Linked DNA regions of Homo sapiens: all the other regions are linked to region 2. The links come from fine-mapping of genetic effects on gene expression. A gene starts in region 2. Each other region holds a variant in brackets. All regions are shown on one strand. Distances are from middle to middle. Region 1 overlaps MPZL1 (myelin protein zero like 1). Region 2 holds the start of MPZL1 (myelin protein zero like 1). Region 3 overlaps MPZL1 (myelin protein zero like 1).

The links. PIP is the estimated chance that this variant, and not a neighbour inherited with it, causes the effect.
Region 1: its variant is fine-mapped to the expression of MPZL1 in monocytes (TOPMed, PIP 0.90).
Region 3: its variant is fine-mapped to the expression of MPZL1 in blood mononuclear cells (TOPMed, PIP above 0.99).

The regions. Positions count from the first base shown.
Region 1 is chr1:167,784,596-167,787,361 of GRCh38, reverse strand. The region is part of intron 5 of MPZL1 (myelin protein zero like 1); the gene reads right to left. Among named protein-coding and RNA genes, the nearest start is that of MPZL1, 64 kb to the right of the region's middle. The variant G/A (reference allele first, on the strand shown) is at 1,323.
Region 2 is chr1:167,720,648-167,723,413 of GRCh38, reverse strand. MPZL1 (myelin protein zero like 1) reads right to left here and starts at 1,432. Exons shown (of 6, transcript NM_003953.6): 1 at 1,172-1,432. The coding sequence starts at 1,262. RefSeq lists silencers at 793-932, 963-1,032, 1,423-1,792 and an enhancer at 604-1,104.
Region 3 is chr1:167,779,080-167,781,845 of GRCh38, reverse strand. All of the region lies in intron 5 of MPZL1 (myelin protein zero like 1), which reads right to left. Among named protein-coding and RNA genes, the nearest start is that of MPZL1, 58 kb to the right of the region's middle. The variant T/C (reference allele first, on the strand shown) is at 1,250.

The DNA.
Region 1 (2,766 bases), 64 kb before region 2:
TACAATCAATTTGATCTGGTCACGTTATACAAATAGGTATAGTTTTAAACAAATAGTTTAAAAGCACTTCAAATATTCTTCAATACAACTACTTACAGCATAATTCTTTTAGTCTGAGCGTATTGTGACCAATACAAATATTGCTTCCTTGATTTTTAATATCAGATAACTGTTCTTCCTGTTTTAAAATAAAATTAAAAAGAAAAAACAAAAAGCCACAATCTACACAGATATAAAGAAAAACCCTAAATGGAGTAAAGTAGAAAAGATCCTCTTCTCAGCCTCAGCAGTAAGGAAGAGGTTACAATTCCAGGGAATTGTCAGGGTCCCATTCAGGAGAGCAAGGGAAGGTTGGGTGGCCTGGGGGCAGAGCGAATTCCCTAACTGTTGGGGGAAGAGGTCAGATAGGTGGCTGCATTTCATGACTCTTTCAGTCTAGACTCTTAAAATTGTAAACAACAACAAAATAGCCCTGGTTTTAAAAGAAAGATTTAATATTACCCAATGTCAACTTTTCTCCCAATCTAGGGGAACTCTCCTTGAGAAGTCTAATAACGTGCTTAAGCTTTCACCTTTGAAATCATAAGCTCAATAGCCAAAAGCACGTGGTTTAAAATAAACACACTTACCCTCATCCAGGAGCCCTAACAACCTGTGTCCTTAGTGTGTAACCTGGGGTTCTGTGGAGTTCAGCTACTCCCACATCTACAGAAGGGACAGGCCCAGTTGTAAGGGCTATACAATGGTGCATCTAAAAGCGGAGTTAGAAAATAACACTCGAGGACTAGAGCCATTTGAATGTTGGCAGATCTGCAGTCTGAATTATGATATCGTCTTTGTTGAACCTTAGAGAAGAGCACTGGTCACGTGGCCCTGGGCACATTTGTAAATTTCTAAGCACAAGTTTCTTCATCTCTAAAATGGTACTACTAATAATATCTACATTTTTGTTTTTTGTTGTTATGAAAATTAAATAAGATGATACCTATAACTTAGGCAGTGTCTCACAGACAGTACTTAATACATGTTAGTTATTATTATGAACGTCTTGTTACACAAACATACTTTAAAATGCACTGAGGTAACTGGTCAAGTAAATTAAATAGTCAAACTCTGTGTGTTTATCTTTAGTCTATAATGGCTGTCATAGGAAATATTAACAGATCACATGGTTAATAATCATACAGACCCTCTATATTCATCTCAGAAAGCTACAAGTTAAATGCTAACCCCACCAAAAAACAAAAGGAAGTTAAAAAGACTGTTTTCGGCCGGGTGTGGTGGCTCACGCCTGTAATCCCAGCACTTTGGGAGGCCGAGGC[G/A]GGCGGATCATGAGGTCAGGAGATCGAGACCATCCTTGCTAACACGGTGAAACCCCGTCTCTACTAAAAATACAAAAAAATTCGCCGGGCATGGTGGTGGGCGCCTGGAGTCCCAGCTACTCAGGAGGCTGAGGCAGGAGAATGGTGTGAACCCAGGAGGCGGAGCTTACAGTGAGCCAAGATAGCGCCACTGCACTTCAGCCCGGGTGACAAAGCGAGACTCCGTCTCAAAAAAACAAAAAAAAGACTGTTTTCTACTAGGAACAGAATTAAACTAACTGTTCCCTGGTAACAGCTATTTCCAAGAATAGGACGGAACTCCCAACATTAAATTATATAAATTCTTAGATAATAAAACCCCATATCATAATTCCTAAAAACTCACTAAGAGTTTTAGGGTATGTTCATGGGAGAAGGGGTTTACAATGTGTGACTGACTGCACAAATGGCTACAAACTCTTTCCTTCTCTGCATCTTACTCTTTGCAACATAATGCTGTAGGTCCTTCCAATCAAGAGTAGAAATCTGTTTCTCTACCCCTTGAATCTGGGCTGATCTTGTGATCAGCTCTGACTAACAGAATGAGGCAGCAGTGATGCTGTGCAGTTTCCACACCCAGACCTCAACAGACCTTGCCACTTCCACTCTCACTGATCTTGGGACCCACACAGCCACCACTACCATGTGAAGAAGCCAAAGTCAGCCTGATGGCTGATGAGAGATGCATGGCCCAGCTGTCCTCTGTCTGCCTGGCCAACAGCCTGCCAATGGTTAGACTGTAAGTGAGACCACTGTAGACTGTCCAGCTACCAGTCAACCTTCTAGCCAACTGCAGATGCACAAGTGAGCCAGCAGAGATCAGCTGAGCTCATCCAGACCAGAATCTGCTCGACCAATCCACAGAATGGGGAGCCAAATAAATAGTGCGTGTTTTAAGCCACTATATTTTGGGGGGTTTGTTACGTAGCAGTAGATAATTGATATATTATGTGAGTAGAAAAGAATGAGAACAGAGAAAGTAAAGAGGAAAAAGAACACAGAATTATCTTTTAGTCTGTAAATGTTAAAATATCAATGAGGTCTTTCATGTGAGACAGTACTGTCTTTCATGTCAAAAGAATACAACTATCTCATGAAAGTAAATGGGAAAACACTGAAGAAATCCCTTCCTGCTGATGGACTTGGTATTCTTCAAACTGTTTACCACTGCCTGATGTTATCCTCATTCCTCTTCCCCCTTAGAATATAATAAGGTCTTAAGTCAGGGACTTTGTTAACTTCCTAGAACTTGGCAGAACACAGGTGCTGGATGAAGGGATGGATGAAAGAAAGGATGCAGAGAAACTGCAGATGTAGGTTGAGATTGGGGTCTGCTGACAGATCTAGCTCAATCTAGAACACCTCTATGAAGTTTGATTCTGAGTGCTATTTAGAGGTGGAAGGA
Region 2 (2,766 bases):
GGGAGACTTTTACATTTATGCTTTACAGCCCCTGGAATCACTGTTTAAGTGGAACAGTTGGTGATCCAACAGAACTTCACCTAGTTTCCCTGATCCAAGGATTATATTAAGAACTTTTCCATGAAGAAAGAAATTACTGAGTAAACTCTGGTATTCAGATACTGTGATGCTAAATCATAACTGACATTTTGAAAACAAAGGGAATGAAAAAAATCTACGTGGTTTCTTAGCAGCTGGCCCTCTTTATAACTATTATTTAACTAAATTCGGAGACAGCAACAAGTACTTTGCTTTGAACAACAACACAGAAAAGTCCTGTGGCAGATACCACTTCAGATGTCCATAAAACAAGTCATCCAATTCCCATAAATTGAGCCCGAGGTTTACCTTAAGCTTGAGTCACAATATTTGGTAAGAAAAAGGAGCTTTTTTTTTCCTTTAGGAAAATTATGCTTTTTAATGCTCTATGTCTTGTCAAATTATGGTGGCTACGTCTGGAATTATGATGGATTTGACCAAATTCTTTTAAGCCAGGCCATCTCACTGGTATTCCAAGCTCTTTGCATTCTAACCTAGAAGTAACAATATTTTTTTATTGGCGTTTTGCAGACCACGGAAATGAGACTCTTTTATTACGGAGACTTAAAACTGAATGAGAGCATGGGAAAGGGAACTTACAACAAAACCCTGGCTTAACAGGAAACAAATCAACAAAGGCCCTACAAATGAAAAACCTGCAACTTTCCGCCACCTCCCAAAGGTGAAGAACGCCAGAACCCTAGTTCCTGAGTCAGAATCCGGGAGGGCCTAGACGATCCAGAGTCACCACGAGGAGAGGGCAGGGTGCGCCGCGAGGGCTCACCGCAGCCGCCCGCCGGGTCCGCTCCCCTGGACCGCCCCCCGGGAAGGAGCAAGGTAAAGCACTCTCCCCTCCTCCTCCGCACTCCAGGATCCAGGAAAGAGAAGAAAGAGGCTCTGCGCCTTCCCGGCCAGTCGCGGAGGCCCGCGTTCCCCATGGGCTGGGTCCCCTCGGCCCCAGAGAGCGCAGGCCGCGCCCCCTCCCCACCTCGGCTCTCAGTGCGCGCGCCTGGCCTGCGACCGCCGCGATGGGCGTGTGTCGGGCCCGGGGGCCCCACTCCCCGGCCCCAGCCCTGGTCCTGGCATCACTTACAGAGCCCAAGCGCCGCCGCCAGCACCGACCACAGCCAGCGCCGGCTGTCTGGGGCTGCAATCACCGCCCCGGCTCCGGCGGACGCTGCCATCGTCCAGCCACTGCAGTCGCCGCCGCCGCCGCCGCGTCCCTGAGCCCGGGTCCCCGCTGAGGTTGGCTCGGCTTGGGGAAGAGGCTTCTGATCTCTCCGCCACCCGCGCCGGGTGGCACCTCCACGCCGCGCTCCCCACTCCGGTCCCAGCCGCGGCTCTCCAGCTCTGCACCGAAGCCTCAGCCCCACTCCGGCCCTCGCTGTCCGCTCATTGGCCTGCCCGCACCCTTTTAAGGACGCGATTGGAGAGTCAGGCTGTCCATCATCCGTCCGCCGGGAAGGCCCCGCCTCCTCGGTCCCACCCAGGCGCCTCGGCCCCGCGCGGAGGCCGGGTCTGCAGCGGTCCCAGGCCGAGCCGAGCCTTCCGCCTGCCTGCGTGGCTGTCCGCCTGCGGGCCCCACCAGCCAGCGTCTCCTCTGCCTTTCTCAGGGTCCAGTCCCGTGGTCCTCTTCATTGTCTCTCCTCGCCACAGGTCTTTGCTGGGTACTAACCTCGCCTCCGTTTCAGCTCTTCTTGTTCTCTGCCGGCCTCACCTAACGAAAAAGAAGCAATTCATTTACCTTAAAAAGAAAGAAAAGACAGAAAGAAAAATAATGAGGCGTTCAATTGATGGGGGAGAGACTTCTGATTCAGTCGTCCAGGTGGAACACGTTCCCCGTGCCGTGTCCCCAAGGCCTGTCCTTTGCGTGGACTAGATAATGTATGTGTTGCAATTTGCGAAATCTACTAGTTTAAAAAGAAGTCTCCATCTTGCCCTAACCTCCTCTTAGGAACCTCCCTCCTGGCTTCAGAAGGATGGGAATCTGGAACTCTTTCCTACTACCTGAAAAACAAATGAAAATGCTTTTTGATTGTTTTGCTTTCGCATATCTGTGTTCCTGTCTGTGTCCGTGAAAAATAGAAAGCAGAAGTTCCCAACACTGATTCTGAAGTGCCCTGCAGAAGTTCCCGACACTGATTGCTGGCCCTGCTCAACTTGGTTGCCTTGGCCCAGAACAGTCTGCCACCTACGGGTTGTCCAATCAATAGGGGAAATATTTGGAAGGATCCTTATGAAAATGGCTTACAAAAGGGAAAAATGGGGGACAGGGGCACAAGAAAGATGAGTGTGAAGGAGGAAAAGGGAAGATTCAGGTGGGAGGCTGATACGATGAGGAAGGGAAGCAAGCTTTAGACAATTAGGACAAGAGCGGGGGAAGAGTATGGTGAGAACCCAAAATGTAACCTCTCACTTCAGGGTTTTTGTCTAAGGTCAGTCTTAACAATGCCATTCCTGATATCTGTGCTGTTTCAGCTAACATTGCAGTACAGCGAAATCATAAGAACATTAGTGAGAAAAAAACTTAAAAAAAAAAAATACCAGAACCACTTTGCCCTATTTCTGTCAGCAGATCCTTTTGAAGTTGTATCTCAAATGCCATAGGTTGGAAAAGATACCAATGCATTAATTGAACCATGGATGTAGAACACCTGGGCTTTACTCTCAAGAAGCACATCGTCTACT
Region 3 (2,766 bases), 58 kb before region 2:
ATAATTAAATAGTATATAAAATGCCAAACACCAAAGGCATAAAGAAGATCCGAAAAGCAGCCAGAGAGAAGCGACAGATTACCTACAGGGAAACAATGAGAATGTCAGCTGATTTTTCCACAGCTCTTCTCTTTATTAATTCTATCTGTTTATGTTGGGTTTAATTTGCTCTTCTTTTTCTAGTTTCTTCAGACAGAAGCCTAGATCATCAATTTTAGAGCTTTATTTTTTTCTAATATAAACAGTTAATGCTACAAATCTTCAAAGCACTTCTTTAGCTATATCTCACAAATTTTGATATGTTATTTTCACTCAGTTCAAAATATTTTCTAATTTTTCTTGTGACTTCTTGTTTTACTCATGGGTTGTTCAATTTTGAAATATTTGAGACTTTCCAGGTATCTTTCTGTTGATTTCTGTTTAATTCCATTGTGGCCAGAGAACGTACTCTATATGATTCCAACCCTTTTAAATTTAATGAGAATTGTTTTATGAACCAGAATATGGTCTATATTTGGTTAATTTTCATGTGTACTTAAAAAGAGTAAGAATTCTGCGCTTGATGGAAGGAGTGTTTTATAAATGTCTATTAGCTCAAACTGGTTTCACTGTTAAGTCTTCCGCATCTTTTTTGATTTTCTGTAAACCTGTTCTACCAACTGCTGAGAAAGGAGTGTTGAAACCTCCAACTATGATTGTGAATATGTCAATTTCTCCTTTCAATTCTCTTAGTTTTACTTCACTTACTTTCAAGCTCTATTATTAGAAGTATAAATATTTAGGATTATGTCTTCTTCATGAGTAGATCACTTTGTCATCATAAAAAGTCTGTCTTTATCCCTGGTTCTATTTCTTGTTCTGAAGCCTATTCTGATATTATTACCACCCAGATTTCTCTTGATTAGTGTTAATGTAGCATATCATTTCCATCCTTTTACTGTTTAAAAAATGTGGTAAAATATATATAACATAAAAATTAGCATCTTTACCATTTTAAAGTGTACAGCTTAGTAGTGTTAAGTGCATTTACATCCTTGTGCAACCAATCTCTACGATATTTTCATCCTGCAAAAACTGAAACTGTACCAATTAAACAACTCCCTATTCTTCCTTCCCCAACAACTACCACTCTACTTTCTGTCTCTATGAACTGGACCACTGTAGGGTATGGGATATTAGTAGAATCACATAGTATGTCTTTCTGTGGCTGGCTTATTTCACTTGGCATATCTTCAAGATTCATCCATGT[T/C]GTAGCATGTGTCAGAATTTCTTTCCTTTTAAAGACAGAATAATATTCCATTGTGTATATATATACCACATTCTATTTATCCACTTGTATACTGATGGACTCTTGGGTTGCTTCTGTATTTTGGCTCTTGTGAATAATACTGCTATGAACATGGATGTACAAATATCTCTTCAAGACTCTGCTTTCAATTTCATCCTTGTATTAATATTTTTAACCTACCTGGATCTTTTTATTTAAAGTGGTTTATTGCAGACAGCATATGATTGGTTCTTGCTTTTCTATCCAATTTGTCCATCTCCACCTTTTATTGGCACACTCAGCCCATTTATAGTAATACAATCATCAGTCTGGTTGAGTTTAAATCTACCACTTCATTATTTGTGTTCTATTTGCCCCATCTACCCTTTGCTCATTTTCCCCTCCTTTCCTGCTCACTTTTGGATTAACTGAGTATTTTGAAATGATTACATTAAAGTTTCTTGTTGAAACCTCCAACTATGATTGTAAATACGTCAATTTTTCCTTCCAATTCTCTCAGTTTTACTTATTTTCAAGCTCTACTATTACAAGTATAAACATTTAGGATTATGTCTTCTTTGTAAGTAGATCGCTTTATCATCATAAAAAGTCCCTCTATCTCTGGTTCTATTTCTTGTTCTGATGCCAACGTTGATATTATTACCATCCGCATTTACCATTTTCCATGTTGTAGCATATGTCAGAATTTTGTTCTTATCAGTATTGCCATTCGGAGATAGAGCTTGTTAGCTGTATCTATCTCTTTTATTTTTTTCAGTGTTTGCTCTAGAATTTGCAGCATATATCTTTAACTTACCACAGTCTACCTTCAAATTATAATTTCATGGATAATATAAGGACCTTACAACAGTATTCTTCCATCCTTCCACCCCATCCTTTGTACTACTGTTGTCATACATTTTACTTCCACATGTTATAGCCTCATAAAATGCTGTCATTATTTTTGCTGTAAAGAGTCAATTTTTTTTTTTTTGAGATGGAGTCTCACTCTGTTGCCCAGGCTGGAGTGCAGTGGCGCGATCTTGGCTCACTGCAATGTCCGCTTCTGTGGTTTAAGCAATTCTCCTGTCTTGGCCTCCCAAGTAGCTGGGATTACAGGCGCCTGCCACCATGCCCAACTAATCTTTGTATTTTTAGGAGAGATGGGGTTTTGCCACGTTGGCCAGGCTGGTTTCGAACTCCTGACCTCAGGTGATCCACCCACCTCAGCCTCCCAAAGTGCTAGGATTACAGGCGTTGAGTCACTGCGCCCAGCAATTTTCGCTATTGCTTTCTGTGTGTTTATGTTTTTCATTAAATTTACTAAAAATTTCACTATTTCTTTACATATTTTTTTCTCTCCCTTTTTCTTCTCGGATTCTAATTAGATTGCTTGATATTGTCCGGTGGCTCACTGAAGCTCTGTTCACTTTCTTTTTTTTCTTTTTTTCTTTTTTGAGACAGAGTCTCGCTCTGTTGCCCAGGCTGGAGTACAGTGG